Homo sapiens: one gene and its partners. The protein of the gene in region 3 interacts with the protein of the main gene of each other region in a pairwise test. Each region holds a gene or a part of one and is shown on either strand. Other genes may lie near its edges.

Region 1 (3,826 bases), on a different chromosome or scaffold from region 3:
TGTACAGCTTTTCCAAGTTGGCTTAGGCAGGATTCTCCTTTAAGCGATAAAGACAACATGCTTCCCACTGAACTTTTTCTCCAATTCACATACTAGCCGGACTTGGATTTTCTGGAAAGATTTCAGTTGAGGAACGGGAACAAAGATTATGATAGCTTTCTGACCACCACCAACCTCAATTTCCTTGGCTGCCATAATATTCAGCTCCCTGAGCTGAGCCTTGAGGTCCAAGTTCATCTCCAGCTCCAGAAGAGCCTGGGAGATGCGGGACTCGAACTCGTCCGGCTTCTCGCCATTAGGCTTCACGATCTTGGCGCTCGTACTGAACATGGCCTTCTCCTGGGAGAACTTGCCGAGCGCCGGCTTAGGAAGAGCAGAAGGATGCCTTTTAAGCAACTCCATGCTGCAGGCTCTTCGCCTGAAATACAACTCTGCTTCAGGCAGGTGAGGGCAGGAGGCAGGAAGCCAGACATTCAGGTAAATTATGGAGATAGTGCAAAGGATCAGGCATCTCAATGCAAGAATAAATAAGGCCCCCAGAAGTGGAAGGACCAAATATCAAGGTTCTGGGAGTCAAAGGAAAGAAAGCATGGACTATGTGATCCATTAACAGAGAAAGCCTTTCTTTTGAGGAAACTGGATAACAATGCTAGGACTGACTAGAACAGAGGTAACCTTTTGAGAATGGCAACGTGCCAAGCAGTTCAAGAGAATAACAACAATCATGTGGAATGGGCCAAGCCTGCTATGCGAGGCTGCGCAGGTTGCATGCTGCACAAAGGTCTCCTGCTGACAGGATTAAATGGGCCAGGAAAGGCTGCCTCTTTGGAGAGGCTACCTTTCCATAATTTACACTAAGTCATCTTATATGTTAAAAGTAGGAGAGGAAGTCTAGGTGAAGCCTGGGGGGCGGGGGGAAAGAAGTAAAGGAGGAAGGAAGGGTGGTCAAAGAAATGCAAAACCTTAAATTCTACTCTCAAACCTGAATATCCAATTGGACCTTCATTTCTTAGGCCTCAGGAAGGGGGTTGGGGTATTAGGGGGTTAGGGGTATGAAGGAGTAGAATAATCCAAGATGCCTAGAGCATGGGGCCCACAACCAGAGCTCCATGGCAACTTTCTTCAAAATGTATATTTAAATTTCTATCAAACTGTAATTTATTATGCAAGGTGAAATATGTAGGAAGAAACAGACCGATGTGTGCAGTTTACTTTGAAATGCATCAAGAAAATAAAGTAGAATAAGGGATCGCTAGAAGGATGGACAAATGGATAGAAAGGTGATAAAGCAAGTAGAGTAAAATGTTCATGGGGTAAACTCAAAGTGCTATGTATATAGCTGCACACAGTAAAATTATTTCAGCTTTGTTGTATGTTTTAAACTTTTTATAGTAAAATCTTGGGAAAACATTGATTGAAAAAAGAGGAATCGAGATCTAAGAAAAAATAATGACACACCAGAATGGGAAACGGCTGCAGACTGTCATAGAAATGTCACCAATTAGCTGTAATAACAATTAGAATGTGTTGGGTGCTTACTATTTGCCTAGTGCTATGCTAGTGCTTGACAGATAATCCTATTAATTATAATTATAGCAATTAGAAATGATGTAGGTCTTATCAAAGAAGGTCTCTAAGATTAAATTTTAAAAAGCAGAACTGGAAACAGAACAAGTCTGGCTAAAGTTAAAGGAAAGGAAACAGAAAGCTCCAGCCATAGAACGAAAGACAGGCTTTCTGTCCACAAGCGGGGAAAGGGCTGCCCATACAAACATATATGCCAGGCCTGGAAAATTAAGTCTAATGTTGCCCGGCATGGGGTCTTGAAGGATGTGAAAGTTCCAACCCATTCTTCCCACCACTCAACTCTTCCTCTCCAGTGGAGTTGACCACAATGCCACTGGCATAATCATAATTCCACTGCAGGTGGCTCCACGGTTTCACAGCCTTCAAAGTGCTCTTATATGTAGTATGTCAGGCAGCATAATGTCCTGGAAGGGCCAAAGACTCGGATGCTACAGGACCTCAGCTAAATGCTGGATTTTACCACTGACTATAGATGACTGTGGGCAAATAGCTGACTCTCCCTGGACCTCAGTTGCTAAACCTATAAAATGAAAGTGTTATCCCCATTTTACAGATGATTAAACTGAGGTCTGGAGAAGTAAGGTGACTTGCATAAGGCCACACAATTGATAAGAGGAAGAACGAGCCAGGCATGGTGGCTCACGCCTGTAATCCCAGCACTTTGAGAGGCCAAGGCGGGCGGATCACCTGATGTCGGGAGTTCAAGACCAGCTTGACCAACATGGAGAAACCCCACCTCTACTAAAAATACAAAATTAGCCAGGGTGGTGGCGCATGCCTGTACTCCCAGCTACTCGGGAGGCTGAGGCAGGAGAATCGCTTGAACCCGGGAGGTGGAGGTTGCGGTGAGCCGAGATTGCGCCATTGCACTCCAGCCTGGGCAACAACAGCGAAACTCTGTCTCAAAAAAAAAAAAAAAAAAAAGAGGAAGAATGGGAACTGTGTCTTTTGACATGAGGCTAGTGCTCTCAGGACTTACACAGGCCAGAATCATGCCCATATGCCCCTGCTGTAAAGAACACTCTGCTCTGAATCTCCATTAATTATCATCTCAAAAGAATAAAGACAAAACACATGTAATAAGTGACAATTTAAATATCTCTCAAGACTAACCATCTTTCAGTTTGTCCAAAAGAAAAGGAGGTTGGGAACTGTGTATTTGACATGAGGCTAGTGCTCTCAGAACTTACACAAGGCCAGAATCATGCCCATATGCCCCTGCTGTAAAGAAAACTGCTCTGAATACTCTTTCCAAGTTATCCAAATTGACTTACTGTTTTCAGTTGTACATTTCCAAACATTTCTCACAAATATATACATAGTTTATAAATGCTAATTAATCACTATTTTCCACATTATCACCCAGATCTAAGTACATTCTAGGGATTATAAATAAATTTGCCTCAATAATTAATAATAAAAATATTTAAAATACTCAAAGTATCTGTTATATTAAAAAGTGGATCCTTTCAATAGTGAAACTTTCTTTCTTTCTTTCTTTTTTTTTTTTTTTTTTTTTTGAGATGGAGTTTTGCTCTGTCACCCAGCCTGGAGTGCAGTGGCGTGATCTTGGCTCACTGCAACCTCTGCCTCCAGGATTCAAGCGATTCTCCTGTCTCAGCCTTCATGAGTCACTGGGATTGCAGGCATGCACCACCACGCCCAGCTAATTTTTTGTCTTTTTAGTAAAGACAGGATTTCACTATGTTAGCCAAGCTGGTCTTGTGCTCCTAATCTCAAGGGATCCACCCAACTTGGCCTCCCAAAGTGCTGGGATTACAGGCATGAGCCACCACACCCAACCAAAACTTTCTTAAACATGTTTAAACTAAAATTGTAAACAAAAAGAAAACAGAAAAGTTCACAGAACTTTGACTAAGCCCCTGCTGTCAGTAAGCAGTCAGGTATCTTCTTGGAACAAATGATTGTAAATGAACAAATTGAAAAAGACATTAACAATCACAGGCAACACTGAAGTGCAGAGGAATATATTTAAGCACGAAGATCTGAAGAACAAAGCCTCCATTTGGGGAAGAGGGCCTTTTATTTCAAGGGCACTTTCAGAAACCAGAAGACCAAAGCAAGAAAAAAATAACCTGTCATGTTTTTAATAACGCAGGCTATATATTAAAAAGTAGCATAACAGTAACTGTACCCACATACAATTATTCTATAATAGTTAAAGGCATGCTGGCATAGAGATATAACAATTTGGGCATATCTGTTTTTTTTTAAAGTC
Region 2 (3,600 bases), on a different chromosome or scaffold from region 3:
TGAATATGTTTAGAACAGCACTTGGCACACACGAAGCACTCTATCAACAGCAGATATTATTAGTAGCACCTAGCCAGGTTTGTAAATGCTCAATAAATAATTACATTTAAGTATAAACTGCCACTGCCTTCCTTCAGTAACAATAAACCCTTACACAAGCATATCTGTAAAGTGCTTTGTTGCCCATGACCACATTTAAATTAAGAATCTAGAAGGTGGTCAGGGTTCTTAGTAACAGTAAATGCTTATTGCATTATATTGCACTATATACAACGTGCAATGTTCGAAGCATGTCTCACATAACAACTCATTCTGTCAGCTACCCTAGGGGTCAACATTACCCCATTTTAAGTGGAGGAAACAATCTCCCAGAGGGAAGTAACTTGCCCGCGGGCCCACAGCTGTCAAGGGGAGGGCTGCACTCCTGACCCCAACTCTGCCTGCCTCTGGAATGAGTTACCCTTTGCTGGAGCCGGACCGTGTGTACAGCACTTCTGGGTGCTCCACGAACTTTCCCAGCACAGCGCTTGGCACATACAAGGGGCTCAAAATTATGCGTAACGGAGAGAATTTCACAACGTCCCTATGTGGAAGAAATGATCACCTCCGTTTCAGAAATAAAGAAATGACACCAAGTGGGGGAAGTATTTGGCTGGAAAAAAAGATTGGACTTTGGGCCCAAAGTCCGCGAGCCCTTAGCCTCCGGCCTTGCTAACTTCCTGCGCAAGCTTGAGCAAGCCACCATCCCTGCCCATTTTTCCTCAACTGTTTAAGAGATCCCTCGGCCCTAAGGACCTCCCGATGCAGAAAATCAACAGAAGTGTTTGATGCTGTAAAAGGCGACTGTCACGGCGAGGGCTGTAACTACAAGGTCGCTGGGCGACTGGGCGGCTGAGCCCCAGCCAGTCTGCACTTCACCAACCGTGGGGGCCGGGCCGGGGTGCGGAGGCCCAGAGGCCAGGGCAGGCCTGCTTCGGGGCACTGGAGGTCTCCGAGGTTGGGGCGGGGCGGGGCAGCCGAGGGGTCTCCCAGGGGAAAGTCCAGGGCGGGATGGGGCGAGACCCCCGGCTGCATGCTGGTATCCTGACTCCGGGCCGCATGCGAGGCGCCGGCAGCAGCCTGAGAGGAGGCGCTGCAACCTCCCCGCCGCCCAGCCGCCGGCGGCCCTCATTCCTTCTCTCACTCACCCGCAGGCCGTGCGCGCTACCACTCCGCAGGACTCGCCTCTGGCCGGGTACCTCTCCCCGGGTCACCCATCAACATGGCCCCTTCACTTCCGGGACACGACCTTGCGCACGGAGCTGCGAAGGGGCTGAAGGGAGCACGAGGGCGAGTGGAGGCGGAGGGACTTCCGGTCTTCTCCAAGCTCTCTCTCGGGCCCCGCCCCCTGCGCATGATTCCGCCCCCCAATCCTGAGCCCCGCCTCCGTGTGTGACCTCACCAAGGGACTGGCCTGCAGAGGCCACTCGCGCCCCGCCCCCAGAGGACTCCGGTGTCCGGGTCCGGCTGTGGGTACCGGGGTGGTCCCGATGCTGGCAGAAGTTCAGAGGGCAGGAGGTAGCCTCGCTGTCCAACAAGGCTGCCGCACCGGGTAGGCCCCTCACCTGCTGGCAACCCCTTAGCCTGTCGGGGTACCTGGCCAGCCTCCTGTACTGTATATGCTGATCTCTGGCTGGGGCCCTGGGGTACCTGAGGGAATTCTAACACTAATATTCAGAGCTCCTCAAAACCCATTTTCTCAGATCGCCTTCTTTTCATCCCTCCATGCTGTTCCTACTCCCCAGGCCCCATGGCTTCTGGCAAACTCCTACCCTTCCTTCAAAGTCTACCTCAAATGCCCCCCTTCACTGGGAAATCTCTCCCAGCCCCTTCCTCGCCTCCCTCTAACACACTCACGTGCCTTCTTTGGGCCCCACGGAAATGTCTGCACATCTTACGCCTCATAATCTGTTCAACAACAAAACGTATTTCTTGGCGCCTACCATATGCCAGGCACTGTAATTTATCCATTTGCTTCTCTGTCTCTCACTAGATTTGAGGACGGAGGCCGTGTCTCTATGGAAGCTCCCTCCCCCAACTGCCTCCCTCCATGCCTGGCTCTGCCAAGCCCAGGGCCTGGGGCTTTGGAGTCCGGGGCCACCGGGGCCACCGCTGGCTCCTAGTTCCAGTTCCACCACTTAGGGACAGCTGCCCTCTGCCAAGTTTCCTAACCTCACCCAGCCTTGGGGCTGTGGTGAGGATTAAAAGGTAATATCTACCAGTAGAGGGGTGGGCAATTGCAGAATAGTCAGGCTATCTGATAAAAGGACGAGAACCAGGAGAAGAACATTGCAGGGAAGAGCATTTCAGGCCTCCCCCCAGGTAAGCCTTTAAGCTCAGCGTGGTCTAGGAGCCACAGGGAGAAAGCCAGTGCTTTCGCAGCTGAGTGAGCAGGAGCTGGGAAAGAGGCCAGAGGGGAGGCCCTTACCAGAACTGGGAGGGAGATGGCGGGTGCAAAGGAACCACAGCAGGGTTCAGAGCCAAGAAGTGCTGGGATCTGACTTCCCTTTCAATGGGATCTGTCTGGCTTGAGAATAACGGAATGGAACCAGGGCTGAGGCAGGGAGACCAATCAAGAGTCTGTTGCAGGGCTGGGCACGGTGGCTCACGTCTGTAATCCCAGCACTTTGGGAGGCTGAGGTGGGCGGATCTACTTGAGGTCAGGAGTTCGAGACCAGCCTGACCAACATGGTGAAACCCCATCTCTACTAAAAATACAAAAATTAGCCGGGAGTGGTGGCATTGTACCTGTAATCCCAGTTACTTGGGAGGCTGAGGCAGGAGAATTGCTTGAGCCTGGGAGGCAGAGGTTGCAGTGAGCCAAGATCACGCTACTGTACTCCAGCCTGGGCGACAGAACAAGACTCGGTCTCAAAAAAAAGAAAAAGAAAAGAAAAGAAAACCAAGATGGAGAGAGGCATAGTAGTTTCTAAGACACTGAGCTAAGAAGGAAAGAAGCTTTCAGTGGAAGCCAAGTCTGTCTTACTCTGAAATGTGTGTTCTTTCCACTCTTTCAGGCTGCCCTAATTTGCTTTTTAAAGAATTTTGTGACCCAAATAAATATAATTGGTGGCATTTCCATCGGCATACCAGATGACCTCTTCATATCTCTCCTGACTTTCTTGTTCTATGGAATGTTATTTTTCGGAGGGAGGGACAGAGGGAGGTCATTTGGAGGGGTCTCCCCTTCGGATCAGCCCCTCTAGATCCACTTGCTCTTCAGGGTCTTATCTTTACTTAGACTGACAAGGCCTCTCCCTGCCCCCGATGCTTCCGTGGCAATGGAGTGTGGGCAGTGAGGTGGTATCTAGCACTTACATGTACGTACCCATGGTGCCTTTGTAGGCCAGAGACCCACGGCAGGGGGCACTGACCCAAACCTCAGGGCTCTGCCAGGTTTCACAGGGCAAGAGGCATTCCAGGATCTCTTGGATTGATATTGCAGGGTGTTTGTTTGTTTGTTTGTTTGTTTGTTTTGAGATGGAGTCTCGCTCTGTCTTTAGGCTGGAGTGCAGTGGCGCGATCTTGGCTCACTGCAGCCTCTGCCTCCCGGGTTCAAGT
Region 3 (3,826 bases):
AAACTCTTGCCAACTGACCTTATCAGTAGAGAGCTATGAAGGGTCAGGATTCTAAGACTTAGGGTTTAATGACCAAGGTCTAGCCTGCAGAGTTCCATGTCACATCTTCAGAGAATAAATACCACAAGACAGACACAGACATAATACATACCTGATAAAAAACAAAGGAAGTTCAACTCCCACAAATAGCCCTGTTGACTTGTACCAGAAAAGCATCTACTTCCTTCTCCTTTCACCATAAATGCAAATAGGTGTTTGTCACTAAGAGTAGGACACAATAAAAGAAAGTAACACCAGCGGGTGCGGTGGCTCATGCCTGTAATCCCAACACTTTGGGAGGCCAAGGCAGGCGGATCTCCTGAGGTCAAGAGTTTGAGACCAGCCTGGCCAACATGGTGAAACCCTGTCTCTACTAAAAATACAAAAATTAGCCAGTGTGGTGGCGGGCTCCTGTAATCCCAACTACTCGGGAGGCTGAGGCAGGAGAATTGCTTGAACCTGGGAGACGGAGGTTGCGGTGAGCCGAGATACCGCGCCACTGCACTCCAGCCTGGGCGACCGAGTGAGACTCCGGCTCAAAAAAAAAAAAAAAAAAAAAAGAAAATAAAGAAAGTAACCCCAAAATGCCAACCAGGAGAAGAAAATTTGCATTTCTTTTTAAAGAACAGGTCCGCCAGTTGACAGGACTATTATTGTCTAGCACATATAGGACCATGAGATCAGAAAAATCAGGTGTAAATGCTAAAGTTTAGATAAAGAGTCTATAGAGAAAAAGTGGCTGTTCCAGAGGAAGAGAACCTCAGGTACACAGGGCTGCTGCTTCACACATCAAATTCTGTGTTGAACACACACCCAGAGTTATGCAATGGGGAGATCTTATAGGTACATACAGGCACTCTGAAATGACCATCATCCCATGTCTCACTCACGGACCTCAAAGTCAAAATCAGTTGCAATTTTGGATTTAAAAATCAGTCCAATGGAAAAATACACTGGCAACACAAAAATGCTGTATTCATTTTTTGTTGTTTCTTTCCAAAAGATGATCAAAACAAAGATGAGTTTTTCTCCTGTTTTCTTAGCACTTAAATGTGACCCTCTCTCAGAGTAGTAACATGAATGACAGTAAATAGCATTTAAAAATAACGTAAAGGGGCTGGGTGCAGTGGCTCAGGTCTGTCATCCCAGCACTTTGGGAGGCCGAGGGGGGTGGATCACTTGAGGTCAGGAGTTTGAGACCAGCCTGGCGAACATGGCGAAACCCCATCTCTACTAAAACTACAAAAATTAGCTGAGTGTGGTGGCATGCACCTGTAGTCACAGCTATTCAAAGGCTGAGGCAGAAGAATTGCTTGGGCCTGGGAGGCGGAGGCTGCAGTGAGCCGAGATCATGTCACTGCACTCCAGCCTGGGTGACAGAGCGAGCTTCTATCTCTTAAAAAAAAAAAAAGTTAAAGAAAGGAGATGATGCTAGAAAGACTTTGAAGCAAATGTTCATTAATTCAATGTTTTATAATGAGAAAGGTTAGGGTATGGTATAATAAAAAACCCTGGGATATATGCTATGAAGTTGTATTTTCTATAGTTTAGGTAAAAGAAAACTAAAGGTTAGAGGTTAAGTGATTTGCTCTAAGTCATAGAGCTAGCACTAGTACCTACATCTTCTAACCTTCTGGTTTCCCCTTACAGCTTACTATAACTTAGAAAACATTAGACGAAGCCTGCTGGATTCATAGGTTTAATGATAATAATAATAAATAATTTTTACTTGTGGCTTAAAATTATACATTAAAGTTTCTACAATTCTAAGCTTAACAAATAGAAACCCCTTTCCCAAGCCTATTAACATGTAGTACGTGTAATAGGAAGATCTGACATGATTATTTCAGCTACTATATTGGTCATCAGTTGTGGTGTGGTCTATAGGGTCCTTTAAGAGAATGTCTGCCTTGTGGCTCAGACACTAACAACCACCAAAGATGGGAACTAGAGTCTGGTACTTGGAAGCACAGTTATAATCCCTCTCTTCTGTCACCACCACTTACCTTGATGGGTACTTCAGCGAGTAAGCAGCAGCCAAGAATCCACCTAGGTTGTGCCCAAGCAAGATCATTTTGTCCAATCCTAGGGCACATCTCCACTCTTCAATGGATTCCACAAACTGATTCTCCACTTCTTCTGCATCACTGTCAAACCTGGGTCTACTACTTCGTCCAAAACCCAATAGGTCAAAAGCATAGACAGGTCTGTTGGTGCAAAGATCTCCAAAATTCAGTGCCCAGAGCCCAAGACCTCCTCCAAAACCATGGAGAAGGACAAGTGGAGTCTTATTTGAAATATTATGAGAGAACTTCAGTGTCCATATTTTATTTCCATTAGATATACGAACAGGTTCTTTTTTGTATGTGCAAGGCACACCTAATGAAAACATAAAAGAGAAATTCTGTTTCATTTTATTACTTCTGAGAAGGGAAGTATTCTCAGAGCAACCAAAAATTACAAATCATCTAGTATCCAATCTCATGATTTTAGCTTGTATTGTCAGCTATTTTTAAAAAGTACACATTTTATTGAAGTAAATAATCCTAAATGACCATGTTTTACACCTAAAGGGGAAGACCTACCTCAGACAAACCTCAAGTAACCTGTGATCAAGGTCTTTGGCAAGTCATATTACCTTCTAACTTCTTTCCACATCTGTCAAATGAGGGTATTATACTCCTAGAAGTGAAAAGGAACTTAGTGGTTACCGAACCCATTATTTTAAGGTCTCTAGCTTTGCAGAGAATTTGTAGAATACTGTCAGGTGTTCTACAATTTCAAGGTGGTATTCTTTGGTTAACTTTGAGTTGAAGTCAGGCTTAAAGGCATCATTTTTCCTTAAAAAGTAGTCATGAATTTAGGGAAGGATTACTGGTATCTATGTTAAACATGTAAGTGAAACCTTAAGTCATTTCAAAAAAAGGTTGACAAAGTATTGTAGGAACTCCTCAGCATGACACACCAGGTAACTTGGGTCCAACTCTAGTAATCTCCTAGAAAAAGCAAATAGTCACAATTTTATAGACCAAAACTCTTTTTTACCTTTAATGTTGTGGAACTAAATACTTTAAACACTCCCAAAAATTGCCTAAAAATGAAATTAAATTTGAAATCATTTATATTTAACTATCAACTGAACAGCTGCATTTTTGATATACCCCTTAATTATTTATGCATATTCATATACAGTAAACAAGACACTGAAGAAACAGGAGTTTCTGCCTTTTAACCAAAGAAATAATATCATGTTTTGTATCCACATAGTGGCAGCAAAGAAGAAACCTAACATTCATTCAGAATATTAATGGAGCACAAGCCCTCAAGTTGGGGGAAATACCACTAGTTTAGAAAAGGGGCTGCTTTGGCTTAAGTGCCAAGCCAAACCACTTCAGCATTTTGAACACATACGTCTGTGTATTCCCATAAAAACCATCTGTATAACTATTAGAGAACTCACTCCACCGTAGCTTACTTTCATGTCTGACACTAAAGCAGAGACCAATTCACATTCCTATTTGCATCCCTAGAACCAAAAGGAAGGGAATCATTATGTCTGTTAAATGCATGAATTGAGAATCTAGCACCCCTTTTTTACCTCCTGATAAGAATTTTTTTATTTTGGTAAATCACAATGACATCTTTCTTAGTTTTGTAGAGAGCAAGTTTACCCAAGTATATGGAATAGAAGTTCATTATCATGTTAAAAATCCATGTAATAACTGGGCGTGGTAGCTCATGCCTGTAATCCCAGCACTTTGGGAGGCCGAGGCAGGTGGATCACCTG

What was found.
Region 1: the proteins of ABHD5 (region 3) and PCNX2 interact in binary tests that used the Homo sapiens proteins (3 or more experiments, as listed by UniProt).
Region 2: the proteins of ABHD5 (region 3) and MIEF1 interact in binary tests that used the Homo sapiens proteins (3 or more experiments, as listed by UniProt).

What each region holds. Positions count from the first base shown.
Region 1 is NC_000001.11:233,289,118-233,292,943, forward strand, and holds part of PCNX2 (pecanex-like protein 2), read right to left. Parts: intron 375-3,826; exon of another isoform or gene 1-374. UniProt on the Homo sapiens protein: May play a role in tumorigenesis of colorectal carcinomas with high microsatellite instability (MSI-H).
Region 2 is NC_000022.11:39,500,025-39,503,624, reverse strand, and holds the start of MIEF1 (mitochondrial dynamics protein MIEF1), read right to left. Parts: upstream 1,336-3,600; 5' UTR 1,188-1,335; intron 1-1,187. UniProt on the Homo sapiens protein: Mitochondrial outer membrane protein which regulates mitochondrial fission/fusion dynamics.
Region 3 is NC_000003.12:43,700,807-43,704,632, reverse strand, and holds part of ABHD5 (1-acylglycerol-3-phosphate O-acyltransferase ABHD5), read right to left. Parts: intron 2,419-3,826; coding exon 2,046-2,418; intron 1-2,045. UniProt on the Homo sapiens protein: Coenzyme A-dependent lysophosphatidic acid acyltransferase that catalyzes the transfer of an acyl group on a lysophosphatidic acid.